Linked DNA regions of Homo sapiens: all the other regions are reported to be linked to region 4. Evidence: microRNA targets listed by miRTarBase, many of them from high-throughput screens and not tested one by one. Region 4 holds a microRNA gene; each other region holds the end of a gene's coding sequence.
Evidence for each region. Region 4 holds the annotated microRNA hsa-miR-493-5p (UUGUACAUGGUAGGCUUUCAUU, at 1,871-1,892, shown strand). A microRNA usually pairs through its seed, bases 2 to 8, with sites in the 3' UTR of a target mRNA and lowers its output. Matches are read on the target gene's strand: a 7mer-m8 pairs with bases 2 to 8, a 7mer-A1 pairs with bases 2 to 7 and ends in A, and an 8mer does both.

Region 1 (4,121 bases), not on the chromosome of region 4:
GGACCTACTAGAGAAGGGGTCCCTGATCCCTGGGCAGCAGAACGGTCGTGGTCCGTGGTCTGTTAGGAACCAGCCTGCACAGCGGGTGAGAGGCGGGCTGATGAGTGAGCATTACCATCCGAGCTCCACCTCCTGTCACATCAGCAGCAGCATTAGATTCTCATAGGGTTGGAAACCCTATCGTGAGCTCTGCATGCAAGGGACCTCGGTTGCGCACTCACTGATCATGCCCGATGATCTGTCACTGTCTCCCATCACCCCCAGATGGGACCATCTAGTTGCAGGAAAACAAGCTCAGGCCTCCCATTGATTCTACATGATGGTGAATTGTGTAATTATTTCATTATATATTACAATGTAATAATAGAAATAAAGTGCACAATAAATATACTTGAATCACCCCAAAACCATACCCCCTGCTCATCTGTGGAAAAACTGTCTTTGGTGAAACCAGTCCCTGGTGCCAAAAAGGTTGGGTTCTGCTGTACTAGGGAACTTCAGAATCACTCTCTGGGCCTGGGAATCTGTACTTAAAAATGCTCCTTGGTAGATTCTGATCAGAGATTTGTGAAGCACTGACAGAGAACAGGATGAAGCCCTAACTCCTATGTGGTAATGTTTCCACAATGCTGATGTGCTACAGGAAGTAAGTTCCCTTTATTATTAATATTCCCAAGCGGACAATTTCCTAAGTAGTAAATTTTTTTTTTCAAGTTGGCAGGAAATAATTTCCCACTTACTGTCTTTCCATGTGGAGGGACTTTAGCCAGTGTTTCTCAGAGTAGAGGAGCACTACTGCACTTTGGGTTGGACAACTGATTGTGTGGCACAGCACAGGACATTTACCATCCGGGCCCTTACTTTTAAATACCAGTGGTGATCCCCAGTGATTGTGACAACCAAAACACATCCCCTCACATTCCTCAGTACTCACGCACCACTTAATGATGTTTTGGTCAACGATGGACTGGGTATACAATGGTGGTCCCAAAGATTATGATACCGTATTTTTACTATACTTTTTCTGTTTAGATATGTTTTAAATACAGAAATACCACTGTGTTATGACTGCCTACAGTATTCAGTACAGTAACATGCTGTACAGGTTTGTAGCGAGGAGCAACAGGCTACACCATATAGCTTAGGTGTGGAGTAGGCCATACCATCTTCATTTGTGTAGTACACTCTCTGATGTTCACACAATGATGACATTGCTTAACACATTTCTCAGAATGTGTCATGGCCGGGCCTGGTGGCTCATGTCTGTAATCTAGCACTTTGGGAGGCCAAGATGGGAGGATCATTTGAGCCCAGGAGTTAGAGACCAGCCTGGGCAACGAAGTGAGACCTCATTGCTATTTAAAAATAAGAACATGTCGCTATTATTAAGCAACAGATGACTGTGTTCCTAGGATGTCAGGTAACCCCACCGAGAGCCACTGTGCTGCACTGCTGTTCCCGACCTCTTGCCCTACCATCACATGAAGCCCAGCTTTTGGAGCGAACTGTTTTAATAGACAGATTCTGCATCTTCTTCATGCGTCTGCCCACAGGGAGTGTGTTCTGGCTGCTGTTTCCAGCCTGGCCTGTGCCTGGGTGGCTCAATCTCCTCATGTCACGGATCTGATCTCAGAAGTATTTTATTTACACACAGGAGGGGAAGGAAGGGGCTTTTAGCTTTCCCTAAACATCTGCAACAATAACTCAATCTTAGAAATAAAGTAACTGATTTATAGTTATTACAGGGAATACAAACATTATAATTCCGCTCTTCCATTTAAAAGATTCCTTTCATTATGTTCCTACTGAAACAGAATGTTACTATTTAAAGAGAAAGAACTTTGACGAGCATTTTTTATTGAACAGTTTTATTCTGTTTTAGAATAAAAACTTTGCTTTAATATTGTAAGGGGTACTGCAGGTATGCCATGCTGCCAGTTATTGCTGGGGCACAAAACGCCCCAGTCAGTGATTCGGAGGGCTGGGAAAACGCATAAACTCATAATTTCAGAGCAAGTAGAACTAGTATTTACAGTTTTCTTTCTTGAAATTGGCCCGGGACATCTCCAACAGTCTACACATGTATTGCCATGGTACTTGCTCTGATGCTCTGAATGCCTCGGAACTGTGTTCAATATCATGATTTGTGGGTCCTCTAAAAGGTTTTGTTGTTAACATGCAAGCAAACAGCACTGAACAATATTGTCTAAACTATGGCTGCCAAGTACTGGATCTTCATAATGAAACCAAATTACAAAACACTGCCTTGTAGAGCTATACAAAAGATATAAAATGAAAATAAAAAATGTCAACCAGCCTTAAATATTCCAATTCTCCTACAGTGCAGTTTCTATATCTTTATCACTACTGAATGTTTTAAGGAGAAAGTTAAGAAAACAATCAAAATATTAGATAAAAATATTTAAATCTTTGGATCCTTTTATTCCATGGCCTTCATAAAAACACAAAAGTGGCCAGATTTTTCCCACTAGAGCTTAAAATATCAAAAAGATTCACTAGTAATTTATAATTAGCAATGAACTCTATACTGAGTCATCTGTGGGTCATCATAGGCCCAAGGACCAGTGTTGCCGTGTGTTACAGGCTACCAAAATAATTTCTAGCACTCTGAATCCTCTTGAAATATGATGGAATGAGTCAAGGTATCATGACTAAATTCCAGGCATAATAGGAAAAACAGGTTCATTGATGCCTAGTTTTAAAGTCCTACAAAAGGGGGGAAGATTACTTATTTGAAAATACAGCTAAGTACATTCTCATCTGTGATTATTTACATTTGTATACTGAAAATATCGATTATCTGGACAGATCCTGTGATATGCCATTTGCTACAAAATGAAGTTCTTACAATGAGCATGAATAATTAATCCTTTTTAGATAATGAAATAATGTATCAAATCTTCATTTATGTTCCAAACATTAAAAAACAAAATCAAAAATGTTAAGCCTGGAAAACTAAGAAAAAAAGACCCACCCATAAGGCTGCTGCTCAGCACATCAACTTCTGCAAGGACACAGTATGTTTGCTGACTTTAAAATGTTTATTCTTTAAAAAATTAGTTGCTTTTTATACAGCTATACAAAGTTCTTAATGTTTCTTTGGCAATGGAATATAATGGAATTTTACAACTATATAAAAAAGTTACCTTTGCCTAAGAAACAGTATTTACTGTGTGTACATAGTTGACTGACAAAATTCTCTACCATCCAGCACCCTAATTAATTGACGAAATAAGCTACCTCATATTACAGGATTCCCCAAAAGAAAGGAGGAAAAAGACACACACATACACACACACACACACACACACACACACACACACACACAACCTTCTGTGGCTCAAAACACAGTATCACGGCCCTATCTGCAGGCAACTTGCAATTGCCAAATACAATTTAGTGATAAAAAAAAAAAACCTTTCAGTGATGAAAAAATACTTGTTAAGTCCCACTGAAGTACTGCTTTAGTTTAACTATACATAAGAAATTACTTAACCTTCTGCTATTCCAAATATATTTAATGCTCATGTTTTAAGATGAGCCTTCCACCCCCAAAAGTAACTGCATTTTATCTTTGAAATTAAGCGGAAAAACAAACAAAAAACAAAAACCCAGTGCTGGTGACAAATGTACAGCGAATTCACTTCTTCATTCTTTGCAAAGACTGAAATCAATGTTCAGGACCATGAAGAGCTAGAAATTCACCTATTTTCAGAGACTTGTTTGTAGACTATGCAGCAACTTTGTTGTCTTTCTAAAAAAGAAAAAAAAATTTAGCTCATGTTCCAAATTATTGGTGTATTATTTTCTTTTTACTTTGCTCAAGTTTATTTTAAATTATCTTTAAATATACTCCCCCACTTTTACTTTCATAGAAAAACCTGTCTCACTCATTTCCACGAAACTCCTTCTATAACTTCCATACTCAGTAGTACCTCATTGTTGACTGCATCTTCCAGTCAGTAGAGGTTAATGCAGTGGTGAACCCCACCCCAAAATACAGGCATACTTCCTCATCTTTGGTTGTTCTCCCTAATAATTTTTTAAAAGCAGTGATAGGACTTAAACCCTCAACTCAATAGTCAAACTCATCAAATACA
Region 2 (4,121 bases), not on the chromosome of region 4:
GGGCTCCCAGGGTGGTGGGATTACAGGCATGAGCCACTGCACCCGGCCCACAGATTCTTATTGAGGCCTTTGTAAGTAGGCAGTTAATGCTCTATTGCCACCATTTCCCACTGTATTTTTTATAAATACCAATTGTTTGGTCAATCGACTTCTATTTATGAAACTGGAAAAGAATAATGATGATCCCAAATGTCTAACCTCATTGCTTGCCTTTATACAGAATCCTCACTATGGATGGGCTCATTGAGGACATTAAGCATCGGCGGTATTATGAGAAGCCATGCTGCCGGCGACAGAGGGAAAGCTATGAAAGGTGCCGGCGGATCTACAACATGGAAATGGCTCGCAAGATCAACTTCTTGATGCGAAAGAATCGGGCAGATCCGTGGCAGGGCTGCTGAGGCCTGTGGGTGGGACACCCAGTGCGAAACCCTCATCCAGTTTTCTCTCCATCTCTTTTCTTTGTACAATCCCATTTCCTATTACCATTCTCTGCAATAAACTCAAATCACATGTCTGCAAGAAGGCCTCCAAATATAGAAACAATCCCATTAGTCAGCAGTGGACCCTGTCTTTTATTAAGTGAAAGAAGAAACTGAGTCTGAAAGTACTCTAGGAGTAGAATGGTATTTGCCAGGGACTGGAGGAGGGGGCAGTGAGGAGTTATTGTTTAATGGGTACAGAGTTTCAGTTTGGGCAGATGAAAAAGTTCAGGAGACGATGGCCTGGCATGGTGGCTCACGCCTGTTATCCCAACACTTTGGGAGGCTGAGGCGGGCGGCTCACTTGAGGCCAGGAGTTTGAGACCAGCTTGGCCAATGTGGTGAAACCCCATCTCTACTAAAAATACAAAAAAAAATTGGCCGGGCGTGGTGGTGCACGCCTGTAATCCCAGATACTTGGGTGGCTGAGGCAGGAGAATTGCTTGAACTGGGGAGGAAGAGGTTGCAGTGAGCCAAGATCATGCCACTGCACTCCAACCTGGGCGACAGAGTGAGACTCCATCTCAAAACAAAAAAACGGAGATGGATGATGAATGGTGATGGCGGTTGCTCAAAAAGTTGAATGTACTTAATGCCACTGAACTATACCCTTAAATGGTCACGATGGTAAATTTTGTGTTTTACTACAATAAAAACTTTTTTGAAAGTCCAGGAGAAGTAAGGAATTTTTTTTTCTTTTTTTTAAGAGGAAGTCTCGCTCTTGTCCCCCAGACTGGAGTGCAATGGTGCAGTCTAGGCTCACTGCAACCTCCGCCTCCTGGGTTCAAGTGATTCTCCTGCCTCAGCCTCCCCAGAAGCTGGGACTACAGGCACCTGCCACCACGCCCAGCTAATTTTTGTATTTTTAGTAGAGACGGGGTTTCACCATGTTGTCCAGGCTGGTCTCGAACTCCTGACCTCAGGTGATCCGCCCACCTCGGCCTCCCAAAGTGCTGGGATTATGGGCATGAGCCACCATACCTGGCTGGTAAATTTTTTTTTTTTTTTTGTAGATGGAGTCTCGCTCTGTTGCCCAGGCTGGAGGGCAGTGGGACAATCTCAGCTCACTGCAAGCTCCGCCGCCTGGGTTCACGCCATTCTCCTGCCTCAGCCTCCCCAGCAGCTGGGACTACAGGCACACGCCGCCACGCCCGGCTAATTTTTGTGTTTTTAGTAGAGATGGGGTTTATCTGTGTTAGCCAGGATAGTCTCGATCTCCTGGTCTCGTGATCCCCCTGCCTTGGCCTCCCAAAGTGTTGGGATTACAGGCGTGAGCCACTGCGCCCGGCCGGAAAATTTTTTTAATGTAGTGAAATATGTCTACCATTTCCTACCCAATTTTTTTGAATCCCCAAGCAAAATCTTACTGAGAAAGCATCTATTACTTTTTATTAAACTGTTCCATGTTAGGTAGAGAGGAGAAGATGCATGTATGTATTTGGAATAAATTCTGCTTCTGAAAACACCTATCAACCAGACTAGAGTGCTGGAATCCTTGCCCAAAGAAATTCTTAAATCTACCCTAATGTTCATTCCTGTTTTCTGTCCTTTTAGTTTTCCTAACAGAGACTAAGAGAGGGATGGTGGAGAAGAAATAAAGCAATAGATGGGTGGGACTCAGTAGATAGTAGGAAAGAGGGAATGGAGCGTTGAGAGAGAATGGCACAGAGCCAGAAATACCCACAAAGCAGTGCTTCTCAAAGTGTCAGATCAGCAGCATCAATTTCACCAGAGGGATTGCTTGAAATGCAAATTATGGGACCCTACTTTAGATCTTCGATATTGGAAATTGAGGTTGGAGCCCAGCAATCTATTTTCACAAGCCTTGCAGGTGATTCTGATGCCTGCTAGAGTTACAACCACTGCCCTTTGCAGTACTCAAAGAGACTTCAAGTGGAGGTTCCCACCATCACTGCCTCTACCCAGCAGTCACTCCTGATTATTTTACTCTTGACAGCTGCGGAAACTGACCACTGTGGGAAGACCAGCTGCTCTGCTTTTTCTCCTGCTGTTTCCTCCACCATTGGTTGGCTGACAGCCGTGTTGCTATTATTAAGAGTCGGTGCCAGGCCGGGTGCCATGGCTCACGCCTGTAATTTCAGCACTTTGGGAGGCTGAGGCGGGCGGATCACGAGGTCAGGAGTTTGAGACCAGCCTAGCCAACATGGTGAAACCCTGTCTCTACTAAAAATACAAAAAAATTAGCTGGGCGTGGTGGTAGGCGCCTGTAATCTCAGCTACCTGGGAGGCTGAGGCAGGAGAATCACTTGAACGCAGGAGGTGGAGGTTGCAGTGAGCCAAGATCGCGCCTGGCGACAGAGCAAGACTCGGTCTCTTTTAAAAGTTGGTGCTGGCCAGGCACAGTGGCTCACGCCTGTAATCCCAGCACTTTGGGAAGCCGAGGTGGGCGGATCACAAGGTCAGGCGATCGAGACCATCCTGGCTAACATGGTGAAACCCCGTCTCTACTGAAAATACAAAAAAGTTAGCGGGGCATGGTGGCGGGCGCCTGTAGTCCCAGCTATTTGGGAGTCTGAGGCAGGAGAATGGCGTGAACCCGGGAGGCAGAGCTTGCAATGAGCCGAAATCGCGCCACTGCACTCCAGCTTGGGCAACGGAGCGTCCCCAAAAAAAAAAAAGGAAAAAGAAATAGATCTGCTCCTTTCCCTCATTTTGGAGAAAATCTGTATACAGGCTGCCTTCAACTTTGTTCCCTTTATACAACCTAGTCTTAACAAACAAGATATGACACTTCTGAGTCACCTTTAAATCTGAATCTGAGGCCGGGCGCGGTGGCTCACGCCTGTAGTCCCAGCACTTTGGAAGGCCGAGGAGGATGGATCACGAGGTCAGGAGAGCAAGACCATCCTGGCTAACACGATGAAACTCCGTCACTACCTTTTTTTTTGTTTTTTGTAGACGGAGTCTCGCTCTATTGCCCAGGCTGGAGTGCAGCGGCGTGATCTCGGCTCACTGCAAGCTCCGCCTTCCGGGTTCACGCCATACTCCTGCCTCAACCTCCCGAGTAGCCAGGACTACAGGCGCCCGCCACCGCGCGTGGCTAATTTTTTTTTTTAATTTTAGTAGAGACGGGGTTTCACCGTGTTAGCCAGTATGGTCTTGATCTCCTGACCTCGTGATCCACCCGCCTCGGCCTCCCAAAGTGCTGGGATTACAGGCGTGAGCCACCGCGCCCGGGAGGCTGAGGCAGGAGAATGGCGTGAACCCCGGAGGCAGACCTTGCAGTGAGCCGAGATGGCGCCACTGCACTCCAGCCTGGGTGACAGAGCGAGACTCCGTCTCAAAAATAAATAAATAAAATAAAATAAATCTGAATTTGGTCTTTAGTACATTTTAATGATATTGAGCCATAATATAGTGTCATCTACCACAGTGGTAAGGCATGTTTGTGATAACAGAATCAGGCCTGTTACTTGGCATTATTCTCCTGGGGCTAAAGTTGCTTCTGAGCTCCCTCCAAAATACTAAGAGGTGGCTGAGATTTGAAATTTTCTTTGTCTCTAAAAATTATCCCCCGCTTGTTTTAATCTTCAGTCCTATTGCCCATGCTCCCCTAGAGCAATGAACAATGATGGGTTTTAGCAGCTAGCCAGTTGAGAGGCCTCATAAATGCGATAA
Region 3 (4,104 bases), not on the chromosome of region 4:
GCTGACATGGTGAAACCCCGTCACTACTAAAAATACAAAAATTAGCCGGGCGTGGTGGTGGGCGCCTGTAATCCCAGCTACTCAGGAGGCTGAGGCAGGAGAATCACTTGAACCTGGGAGGCAGAGGTTGCAGTAAGCCAAGATCGGGCCACTGCACTCCAGCCTGGGTGACAAGAGTGAGACTCTTGTCGCAAAAACAAAACAAAACAAAAAAAAAAACAAAAAAAAAGGAGGGTCCTGATTCACTCACAGGCTCTTTGGCTCTACCAAAAAGCAGTATTTGCTATAAAAATAAGAGATCTAAGACCAGTCTCAATAAAACTCACCAAATTAGTGTTCAGTGCCAGAGAGAAAAGCAAGCTTTGAAATAAACATAAATAGCAACCAGATCAAAATGTGAAATAAAAAAATTCTTAAGCTTTCGATTTTGTCAAATGAAGCTTAAAATTCAAGTATCAGTTCTTACGGTTCTAGCCATTATAAATCTTACGTAAACATAAGAGCTAAAAACAGCCTGGTGTGTGGAGAATGATTATTTGGGCTCAAGTTTTGTCTAAGAAACATAAATTTAATTATAACTCTTAGTAACTATTTAATCCAAGCTGTTTTTCTTCAAATATTTTGTACTGTGTTTAGCCAGAAAACAAAATACAGATGAACTCTTTCTCTTTGTAAGGTGACTGTATTATAAACAAGGCTAAAGTAGCAAGGCTAAACTTTTAGTGCAGATAATAAAATTCGAATAGTACAAGAATACTCTTTAGGTAATATCTATAGAATAAGATCTCTAAATGTTTTTGTATCAGGTGGAAATGCCATCTAAAGTAATATTAACAACATAAATGTATATATGTGCATACATAAATATATAATACACACTTATATGTATGCGGAAGGGAGAGGTGTGTGTGTGTGTGTAAGGGAATGAAGAAAATGAATGAGAATGGGTACAAATCAAAGCAACCTTTTCTTGGGTTAATTATTTCAACTATAAAGATGTATCTCAACTTCTAAAGAAATTCCTGGTTTGTATTTAAATGCACTTTAAAAAGACCGTTAACACTCAAATTTAGTTGACAGGCTACAATGGGATTCAGAAAAGGACACAGTGAATATAGACTTAGGTGCAAGTTCATGCTGGTGATTTTTCTTTTTTAAAATGTAAGCCACTAATATTTTAAGACAAAAATTTAAACCAAAAATTGCATATTAATATTATACACAAACTGAAACATGTGACTTTTAGCACAGTGTATACATGCTTACATAAACTCAAACACATTTAAAACAATTTCCATTTAACATATGAAAGTTTTGAAATACATAAAAGCATTAATACTTTCTATAAAACTACAGTTAGAACATCAATTTGCTACAAGCATATAAAAACATCAAGTGCTTTCTTGGAGTTTCAAGTTTCCTCTCTAAAACACAATCTTGCTCACATATATAGTCCTTTTCCAATAATCAGTATGAACTTTTCTTTTTCTCAAGAGGTTTATTTTCCAGGTACATTATAAGCTCAAGAAAAAAGACCCAACAATTAGGCAATATAATTATGTCATAACAACTTAATTGCACATAATGCTTTAAAGTAGGTTTGGATGAAGTTCTCAAACACTTTGGTATATGATCTTCAGGGACTTTAATTAGAAACAACAGAAATTATAAGTCCCTTCAATCCCCATTTTGCTTTAAAAGGGACAAGTCTTTGGTTAAAGTTCTACATTTTGGGCATTTATTTTTAATTAAGATGGTCCCCAAACCAATAAATGGTACTGATCTATTACAAATTCACAAGACTTCATTTAACCTGCTTCTGATGCAGTGGGAGGTTACAGATACTCATTTACTATAATATGTCATTGGATAGTTTCAATCTTTCATTTATAAGCAGAGAAATCAATAGGTTTATTACTTCTCTGTCAGTTTTCTGTTATAACCTAAACTGTACAGTAATTTGCAGTAACTACAGATACTGTTCCACAGTATATATAATTATGACTGATAAGATGTAGAGCATTAAATTTAGAGTTAGCTTATTCTGATAAGTCAATATTAGACTGTTCATTAACTCTGCATTAACTATAGAAAGGTTGTTAGTTAATGCTTATTTAAAAACCCCAAACCATTCCATTTACAAGAGAAATTGTTGCAAATGTATAAAACAGCAGATATACAAGGAGAACACCAAACATACTTTATTAGCACAAAAAAAGCAGCCATAACAAGGCACAGCAAGCAGAAACATACATTAGCAGTCAAAAGGTTAGTGTTGCATACAAATATAGCTTTCCTTTTTTGTAGCCTTGGCAATAGCCATAGGGATGTAAAATAACATTCTGTAGCAGCAGGTAAGGAAACTATGGAGCACTCACCAGTGGTACAGAGCACATTAACGAAAAGACATGAGAGTGGATTCGGCTACTTTAGTGCAAAATGTCTAGGACAGAACTGTAAATTCAGTTCAGTTACTAAGAAGCAAACACTAGAACTTGATATAACTTCCAAAAGCGCTCACTCAAGTAGTAGTACATATTATTCTAAGTGACAAAAAGGTGCTAAGTTATTTACAGATATAATGGTTGTACAGTACCTTTTAAATCTGCAATTTAGGTTTCAGATTTTCCATTAAGAATGAACTGCACTGAAATTCTATAAATTATACTTAAGCAATTCAGTTATGAGAGTTTACAAAAAAGAGATAAATTCTGCCATCCAAATTATTAATTATAGTTCAACAATAATCTCAACATCAGCAACCATTGTAGTTACTATTATCTGACTTGTTTGGGCGTCTTCTAGTCTCACGTACTTCACGGTTCACAAAATCATCCTGGGCATAGGAACAGATCCAACTTTTATGAAACAACAATTAGACTGCACATCAACTTAAAAAAAAATCACACACAAGACTACATTGCAGCAGCTATTCCAAACGCCTGTTTTAAGTTAAAGCACTCATTTAAAAAATTAATACCTAGGCCTTTCAATAAAATTCTACTACTAGCTTTGTAAGTCTGAAATTTTAAGAATGCCTATTTAGAAAATCTGGTTTACTTAACAGTACCTTTTGCAGAAGAGAAAAGGCGTCTGATTATAAACTACATCAACACGTAAGTGAACTGCACTATGCCCTTGTGGCCAGAAAATTGCATTTTTTTCTAAAAGGAAGGCAGTCTTTTATTCTTTTTGGACTTCCAAAGCTTGATTTATAGTAACTACAAACATCACGACTTTTGGAAGGTTATAGAAAAACTCTTAGAAAAAATAATTTCAAACATTAGTCACACTGTTGAAATACTCATCCAATATTAATAATTTGTTCTTCAGTAAGAAATAGAATTCTTCATAACAAATGCCCCAGAGTTGCCTCACTCAAATACCACAGCCATTAAAAACCAAACTGTTAGCGAAATAGGCAAAATGTTTTTGTAGTCTTACTGAACACCTGTAGCTCTATCCGCTATTGTTCCAATAGGCACCATGTTTATCTGAATAAGTAACAGCAGGTAGCATCTGACAGATACTAACACTAAGCTTACATACTGTATGAAAAAGCCTAACACTGCTACGTGTGCTTGCTATAGGTGTACTGTCTGATGCACATGAAAGCGGACCTAGTTAACAACCTTTGGGGACCGGAGAGTTTACTTTGCCTTGACTGGTTCTCGTTCCAACCAGCGAACTCTAACTTTTTGTTTATAATGATACTCTTTTAAAAAATCCTGTAACATTGAGGGTAGAGGGAGCCCATCAATTCCATCATACGTAGTGCACCTGCAGATTACCGCGCGACAGATATACTGCAGGCTAAAAGGGAAAGTCCTATTTAGTGATATAGTAAGCAATGGTTCAAAAAACATGCACGAACTGGGATCTTTATAATGTTCTAAAAGTCCCGTTACAGTGGAGGAGTGAAATACACACGGGTCATGGGCGTCGAAACTAAAGTTGTGATTCCACTGCTCAATTCGGGCATGCAGGGATCTGTTGTAGCGGCGGAAGCTCACAGAGAAGAGGTAGTCCTCTTGCGCAGAGTCCCTGAGCAAAAACGTGCCTTCAGGTTTCCCTTCGAGAAGGGCTTCTGCTTCATAACGGTCC
Region 4 (4,121 bases):
CACAGTCCCCAGCCCTAGGTGTGCACCCTCTAGTGTGGGGCGAATGGGCTCCTATGCCCATTAGCTCTGGGTTAGGCTCAGATGTATGTGCCGGGCTCCTGTTATGGGAGGGCTCAGAGCACAGGGGCCCCTGGCCTGGGAGCGGGTAGCTGTGTGCATGTGTGTGGGTGTGTGTGCCTCCATGAGCCTGTGTGTGCCTTCGTGAGCCTATGAGTGTGTGAGCATGCCCGGTGTGCACGTGTGTGGGTGCGTGTGCCTGCCAGTGCATGCGTATGCAGCTCTATGCTTGTGTGTATGTGCATGCGTGGGAGACAGATGGTGGAGAGCGACTGGGAGTGGGCGACAGTGGATCTGTCCCTGAGCCTACAGCACCCTGGGTGCCGATGCCACATCCACATCCTGCCCCCAGACCTGCTTCCCGGAGTCACCCATGCCTATATCCCCTGTGGCTTTGCCCATCAGTCCGTCTTTGTGTCCAGGTCTGCCTCAGTGGACAGAAGAGTGAGAGTCTTGGCCCTTGAACCCCTCCTCTTCTCCATCCTTCTCCACCTCCCCCCCTGCCTCTTCTTGGCAAAGCAGCTGGAGTGAGACCTGGGCTGAGGCCAAGGTTGGGGGTACTGTGCTCCCATGAGCTGCAGACACCGTCCTCTCACCGGCTCTCCCTCCTGTGTCCTGGAGTGGAACCCACCCCCGTTGCCCACCCCTTAACCCCTGCCCCCTTGTCTGGGGTTCTGGCCATCCCCCCCACCCCCACCCCCTAGTCTCCAGCTTCCAAGGCAGCTCCCAAGACAATGGGTTGAGCAAGGGGCAGGCTGGGTCCTGTGCCTAGCCCCTCAGCTCCCCCAGCCACTGCATGGGGCTTCTGCTGCTCTGTGGCACTGGCTGGGGAACCTCAGGACCAGATGGGGCCTCCCAGGCCTCGGCTACTGCATCACGCTCTGGACAGGGCCTTGGGCCCGGACGACGCCTGTGCCCGCCATGCCCTCTGGCCAGATGCTGCACCCTCCACCCAGCCTCCAGGTGAGTTCTCGTCATACCCACGGTGCCCCACCCTCCTTGGCATCCAGGTGATGCATCTACCTGAGGTTCCGAATCCAGGGGGGAAATGTTTGCCTTTGCACTGCATATTTACACACTGATTTGAATTGAGGGGTTCCCAAAATGACATCAGGCTTTTTCTGAAAAAGTCTGTTTTGCCCGATTGGTTTGCCAGTGAGGTTCAGAGTGGACAAATCAAAATGAGCTGATTCCAGACCTCTGAGGTTTTGACAAGTGCTCCATACCTAGCATTTGTCACATCTATATGCTATAGTATATGCCAGAGGCCACCTCATTGCAACTTTGTAAACTTCCTATTAACTTTTACGGCCCATTTAAAAATGGGCTATGGGAGGGGGAGATCCGTGGCTTTCCAAAATCCCTTCATGGGGTCTGTAAGCAGAAATGTCTGCTGCCCCCTGTTCCAGGGCACGTCCCACTCCTCACTGGCAGGGCTCTCGGGCTCACTGATTATTCTCTGAGGATCACACAGGGTCGATTTTCTGTGAATGCAAGTGCGTGGGGTGGGTGGTGGGGCGTCGAGCTGAACGCTGGTCTGGACAGGAAAGGCTCCTGCTTCATGTCCCACCTTGACCCTCAGAGGTTTCCAGGCCCAGCTCTTGGGCCCTGGCTTCCTCCTCTCCCTCTCGTCTTTGGGGGGGGTCCATCTCATGCATGTCTGTTACCATGGACTCCATCATCACGGCTCCCATCACCTCCATCTGGCCTCTGTCATCCTGGGCACAGCATCTCATCTCTGGCCATTCCAGCCTCCATCACCCGCCTCACCTCCATCATCCTCGCTTCGGGGCTCATTCTGGCCTCCAGGGCTTTGTACATGGTAGGCTTTCATTCATTCGTTTGCACATTCGGTGAAGGTCTACTGTGTGCCAGGCCCTGTGCCAGGCATCGTGTAGATGGACGTTGCCCTTGTGAGTGCACGCCTCGGGGAGACGCACGCCAGCCGGTGGATGGCAGGAGAGCCTGGGCCAGGGCTGGGGGTGGGGGCGTGGGTGTGGGCATGAGTGCAGAGGAGGGTGAGCTGGTTTCCAGAAGGGCGGGATCAGCTGGGGTGGTGGGCAGGGGGAGGAAGTGCGGGCTCAGCTGAGGTCCTGCTGTGTGGAGCCTGGAGGGAGAGATTGCATGTCCCCTCTCTATTCCCCATGGGTCATCTCAGTAATGGCTGCCGGAGTTCAGGGGTCCCTAGATTGCTCCCAAGGTCCTCACTCCCAAGTCCTTGGCAAGATTCCTGCGCCCCAGGAGCCTTTTGGCACCTGAACTCTGCCACCTAGTCTGCTGGTCAGCCTCTGTGCTGCCCGCGTTGGTGGGTGTCATTGGATTGTTAACGATGTACGTTTTGCTCTAAAATGATGGTGATTGAAGATGGGAATTATTTTGTCAGTTGATTTTAATGTTTTCTTTTTTGTGTGTGAAGTGTTTGTTGTGAAATATCTATTTTGGAAGTTTTTAGGTGTTGGAAAGCCAGAATCTGGGGCCCTCTGGTGTCTAGGAAGAACCTGTGATGCCCTGGGGTGAAGGGATGTGGACTCCCAGGGACAAAACAGTGGACTCTGAGGTCCTCAGGGTCACCTCCCTTTAGGGACTAGAGCACACTCAGTATTCGGGGGCCTCTGTGGTCTTTAAAGATGTCCCATGTTTGCTAAGGAAATGTTACTTTTGCTGGAGGAACTTCTGAAAAATGTTTAGAATTGTTTACCTGCATGTTTTATCTCGTTCAGAATTAGAATTGGTGGCATGTAGATATGCTTCTGGGTCTACCGAGATGAGGCAGGCCTACTGGGTCTCCACCTTCAGCTCAGGACACCCATCATTCACCTGGGAGGGGCTTGCTTCATTAGATGTTCACAAGGCTGAAAAGTGTCCCAGCCTCAAGTGTCACGTGGAGCCTCTTCCACATGCATCGCCAGAAGCGCCTCCTCCCCCATCACTCTGACCCCGCCCCACACAGACGTGTCACACTAGGCTCCTCCTCGAGTCATGTGTCACCGGTGGATGGCAGGAGAGCCTGGGCCAGGGCTGGGGGTGGGGGCGTGGGTGTGGGCATGAGTGCAGAGGAGGGTGAGCTGGTTTCCAGAAGGGCGGGATCAGCTGGGGTGGTGGGCAGGGGGAGGAAGTGCGGGCTCAGCTGAGGTCCTGCTGTGTGGAGCCTGGAGGGAGAGATTGCATGTCCCCTCTCTATTCCCCATGGGTCATCTCAGTAATGGCTGCCGGAGTTCAGGGGTCCCTAGATTGCTCCCAAGGTCCTCACTCCCAAGTCCTTGGCAAGATTCCTGCGCCCCAGGAGCCTTTTGGCACCTGAACTCTGCCACCTAGTCTGCTGGTCAGCCTCTGTGCTGCCCGCGTTGGTGGGTGTCATTGGATTGTTAACGATGTACGTTTTGCTCTAAAATGATGGTGATTGAAGATGGGAATTATTTTGTCAGTTGATTTTAATGTTTTCTTTTTTGTGTGTGAAGTGTTTGTTGTGAAATATCTATTTTGGAAGTTTTTAGGTGTTGGAAAGCCAGAATCTGGGGCCCTCTGGTGTCTAGGAAGAACCTGTGATGCCCTGGGGTGAAGGGATGTGGACTCCCAGGGACAAAACAGTGGACTCTGAGGTCCTCAGGGTCACCTCCCTTTAAGGACTAGAGCACACTCAGTATTCGGGGGCCTCTGTGGTCTTTAAAGATGTCCCATGTTTGCTAAGGAAATGTTACTTTTGCTGGAGAAACTTCTGAAAAATGTTTAGAATTGTTTACCTGCATGTTTTATCTCGTTCAGAATTAGAATTGGTGGCATGTAGATATGCTTCTGGGTCTACCGAGATGAGGCAGGCCTACTGGGTCTCCACCTTCAGCTCAGGACACCCATCATTCACCTGGGAGGGGCTTGCTTCATTAGATGTTCACAAGGCTGAAAAGTGTCCCAGCCTCAAGTGTCACGTGGAGCCTCTTCCACATGCATCGCCAGAAGCGCCTCCTCCCCCATCACTCTGACCCCGCCCCACACAGACGTGTCACACTAGGCTCCTCCTCGAGTCATGTGTCACATGAGACACCCCCGTGTGTCACTTCCAGCCCTGA
Region 5 (4,121 bases), not on the chromosome of region 4:
GCAAAGTAATAGAAAGTGAACAAAAAGGTAGTTTAGATGTTTAGGCATGATATTTATTTCTTCAGAGCATTAAAATACATATTTTTTAAATCTATGCATTGAACAAACACCACTGTAAATAAAGGTTTTATAAGTCAGTGCTTCAGAATTATTTTCCTTCATATGTAAAATATAGGTGATAGGCCGGGCGCAATGGCTCATGCCTGTAATCCCAGCACTTTGGGAGGCCAAGGCAGGTAGATAACCAGGTCAGGAGTTTGAGACCAACGTGGCCAGTATGGTGAAACCCCCGTCTCTACTAAAAATACAAAAATTAGCTGGGCATGCTGGCGTGCACCTGTCGTCCCAGCTACTTGGGAGTCTGAGGCAGAATAATTGCTTGAACCTGGGAGGCGGAGGTAGCAGTGAGCCAAGATGGTGCCACTGCACTCCAGCCTGGGCAACAGAGCAAGACTCCATCTCAAAAAAAAAAAAAAAAAAAAAAACTAAAAATTAAAAAATGTAGTTAAATGTAGTTGATAGGCTGTATATATTTACCCTATACAATGTAAACACTGATGTAATTAACAGATTTTTGTTTTTAACATTTATTCTTCAGGTTAGTCATATTGATGTGATCACAGCAGAGATGGCCAAAGACTTTGTAGAAGATGATACCACACATGGTTAATTGGAAAATACTACCTACTGGTTTGGGAGATGTATATAGTAATATGATTCTCATACCCAGGAACTGTAAATTTAAACCTAAATATTTGGCCAATAGTTTTCAGACTTAAAGCATCATAGTCCTTTTATATTTGTCTTTGTATTTTATAAGATACTCTGTAATGTCATGTTTGTACTGATAGTTTAAGAATTTAATTTCCTGTACAACTTTTTGTAAAATGTTCTGCTCCTATTTTAAATGTTTTGAAACATGCTAAATATTCTTTCCTAATTATTTTATCACTTATACTACCTTTTTTATAGCTTCAATTAAATAATCGGTTTTATGACTAATATAGTGTTTTATGTGGCTTTTCATTTGTCATAGTCTCTTCCAGTGAGAACACTAATCAGATTGGATGTAAGGCCTCATTTTAACTTAATCACCTCTTTAAAAGACCTGTCTCCAAATACAGTTAAATTTGAGGTATTGAGGGTTAGGACTTCAACATGTGAGTTTGGGAAGGGAAGCACAAAATCAGCCCCTACCATGGTATATTTATCATTGATACATTACTATCAACTAAGCTCAAGATTTTATTCAGATTTGACTAGTTTTTCCACTAAGGCCCTTTTTCTTTTCTAGGATCCCACAGAGGATACATTACATTTACTTACATCTCCTCTAGTCTGTGACAATTTCTCTGTCATTGTTTATCATATCTTGACAATTTTGAATAATATTCACATATTTTGTAGAATGTCCCTCAAATTAGGTTTGTCTAATATTTTTCTCATGGTTAGATTGGAGCTAATACCACAGAAGCGAAGTATTCTCATTACCTCATATAATAGTACATATTATTAACATGTTTTATCACTGATGTTTACCTTGATCACCTACCCAACATTGTACTTGCCAGGTTTCTTTGTTGTGAAGTTACATTTTTTTCCCTTTCCATACTACTCTTTTCTTTGAAAGTAGGTCTTTAAGCACTGGGGGTCTCCTGTGACCCTGGAAAACTACCTCAATAGTCCTCGTAGCTTTTTGTAGATTCTTTGAGATTTTCTACATAGACAGTCATGTCATTTGCAAGAAAGAGGCAGTTTTATTTCTTCCTTTTCAAATATTTACCTTTAATTTCTTTTTCTTGATTTCCCCTGGCCTGAGTTTATACTGGTTATCTGCAGGAGAATTTGTTAGGAGCTACTCTTCCATCATTGGAAACCAGAAATACCTAAAGAGATACTTTTAAAATAAAGAAATAGTAATGGGACTTTAAATTGAATTTAAAAATGTGAGTTTACTTTGGGTTTTCATTTTGACTGGCTGAATCTTTAAATGTTCGGTGTATTATTTATACTTTGTAGCTTTGCTATAACATAACTGATCTATAATAGAGAATTTGGTATATGTTCTATCTATGACTACATTCAAAGGGTTACGTAACTATAATATCTTTCTAATATTTCTACCATTTTTCTTACACATTTACCCAAGAATTTTTCTCAAACAACTACCTAAGAATATTCATCATGAATGCTTGGTGTATAGTTTACGATTTGTAGAGTTGCTCTGATATGACCAACCCCTTATAATACAGAATTTGGTGTAAGGTAAGTTCCAGGATTCAATTCAAGGGATGTTACAAACATAACATCATTCTAGAACTTCTTAATATTGTTCTTAAGCATTTCCCCAAGGATATTAGTATAATGAAATGCCAGTAAATTTATAACAATAAAGCATCTAAATAATGAAACAAAATTTTTGTAAAAGCCTATATTCTTTGCGATATCTTAGTCATGAATTAATTCTAATGAGACTGAATAGAAAAATGTGACAATCCTGAGCATGCTTAACCCAGAAACTTAGAGGAAGGACAGACATTTACCCAAGGAGTTAGCCAGTGATTCATAAGAAAATCTATGCTTCTCTTTGGCTGGATAGTCCTTTCCTCAGAGTAGTACTGATTCTTCCACTTTGAGATTTTGTTAATACTGTTACAAATACATTACATTCACCATAGTGGAATTGAAGAACATATATTTTAAGAGATGGTGGGGGGGGTCTCATCCCATCACCCACGCTGGAGTGCGGTGGCAGGATCACAGCTCACTGCAACCTTGAACTCCTGGGCTCAGGTGATCTTCTGCTTTGGCCTGCCAATATTAATATTTTGGGGCATTTCCTTCAAATCTTCATAAAAAGTTTTGTGGTTTATGTTTATTCTAGGTGTATAATTTTATATCTTAGATTTTTAATTTAGTAATAATATAAAATATTCCTGTTTTAATGCTTTGGAAACAAGATTTTAATAGTCATATACTATTCTGTCAAGTAGAAGTAGCATAATTTACTTAAATATCCCACTGGAGGCTTAGATCGTTTTCTTTTGGCTAAAGTACCAAAAATGAATTAAAAAACAGATCAACATTTTTATACATAAAACTCCCAACATTTAGGATTATTTTCCCAGCGTAGATTCCTAGAAGTCAGAGTGTGAATATTTGTAAGGATTTTTGTATACTCTTTATGCTCTTTTTGAAAAAAATGTAAAATATGAAATGGTTAGTATGTAGGTTAAGGATTTGTCTACTCAAAATTAGTGAAATAGTAATTTTAGAAAATGATGTAATTTATAGAAATAATTTTACTGTGAATAATATAATCAGTAGAAAAGGGAGAAATAGAAAGGGAGGATTTCTTTTTTAAGAGTAAGCAATAGCCGGTCGGGCACGGTGGTTCACGCCTGTAATCCCAGCACTTTGGGAGGCCAAGGTGGGTGGATCACAAGGTCAGGAGATCGAGACCATCCTGGCTAACCTGGTGAAATCCCGTCTCCACTAAAAATACAAAAGATTCTCCGGGCGTGGTGGTGGGCGTCTGTAGTCCCAGCTACTGTGGAGGCTGAGGCAGGAGAATGGCGGTAGCCCGGGAGGCAGAGCTTGCAGTGAGCCTAGATCGTGCCACTGCCCTCCAGCCTGGGCGACAGAGCGAGACTCCATCTCAAAAAAAAAAAAAAAAGCAATAGCAAACGGGTCTTTGGAAATATTTAGTTAATTCTTAAAAGGTGTTTCTCTTTTAACAACTATCTAGGCCAGGCGCGGTGGCTCGGTGCCTGTAATCACAGCACTTTGGGAAGCTGAGGCAGGCGGATCACTTAAGGTCAAGAGTTCAAGACCAGCCTGGCCAACATGGTGAAACCCTGTTTCTACTAAAAATTAGCCGGGTGAGGTGATGCGGGCCTATAGTCCCAGCTGCTTGGGAGGCTGAGGCAGGAGAATCATTTGAATCTGGGCGGTGGAGGTTGCAGTGAGCTGAGATCGCACCACTGCACTCCAGCCTGGGAGACACAGCGAGACTCCGTCAAAAAAAAAAAAAAACAAAAAAAAAACCAAAACTCTCTTAATAAAAGGACTAGTACTTTGATTCAGCTTCCCACAAAGGGAGAATACCAGTGTTTAAGTAA

Region 1: the mRNA of LSM14A is a reported target of hsa-miR-493-5p. Seed matches in the 3' UTR shown: 7mer-m8 at 3,196-3,202.
Region 2: the mRNA of MRPS21 is a reported target of hsa-miR-493-5p. Seed matches in the 3' UTR shown: 7mer-A1 at 464-470.
Region 3: the mRNA of SOCS5 is a reported target of hsa-miR-493-5p. Seed matches in the 3' UTR shown: 7mer-A1 at 2,586-2,592.
Region 5: the mRNA of SMC3 is a reported target of hsa-miR-493-5p. Seed matches in the 3' UTR shown: 7mer-A1 at 870-876.

Annotation. Positions count from the first base shown.
Region 1 is chr19:34,227,019-34,231,139 of GRCh38, reverse strand. It overlaps LSM14A (LSM14A mRNA processing body assembly factor), which reads right to left. Exons shown (of 10, transcript NM_015578.4): 10 at 1,852-3,775. The coding sequence ends at 3,752. Among named protein-coding and RNA genes, the nearest start is that of GARRE1, 25 kb to the left of the region's middle.
Region 2 is chr1:150,307,828-150,311,948 of GRCh38, forward strand. MRPS21 (mitochondrial ribosomal protein S21) reads left to right here. Exons shown (of 3, transcript NM_031901.6): 3 at 221-1,152. The coding sequence ends at 401. Among named protein-coding and RNA genes, the nearest start is that of PRPF3, 12 kb to the right of the region's middle.
Region 3 is chr2:46,759,688-46,763,791 of GRCh38, reverse strand. SOCS5 (suppressor of cytokine signaling 5) reads right to left here. Exons shown (of 2, transcript NM_144949.3): 2 at 663-4,104. The coding sequence ends at 3,651. Among named protein-coding and RNA genes, the nearest start is that of LINC01118, 55 kb to the left of the region's middle.
Region 4 is chr14:100,867,205-100,871,325 of GRCh38, forward strand. MIR493 (microRNA 493) reads left to right here and starts at 1,856; the gene lies at 1,856-1,944. RefSeq lists an enhancer at 335-504.
Region 5 is chr10:110,603,633-110,607,753 of GRCh38, forward strand. It overlaps SMC3 (structural maintenance of chromosomes 3), which reads left to right. Exons shown (of 29, transcript NM_005445.4): 29 at 599-2,416. The coding sequence ends at 670. Among named protein-coding and RNA genes, the nearest start is that of SMC3, 38 kb to the left of the region's middle.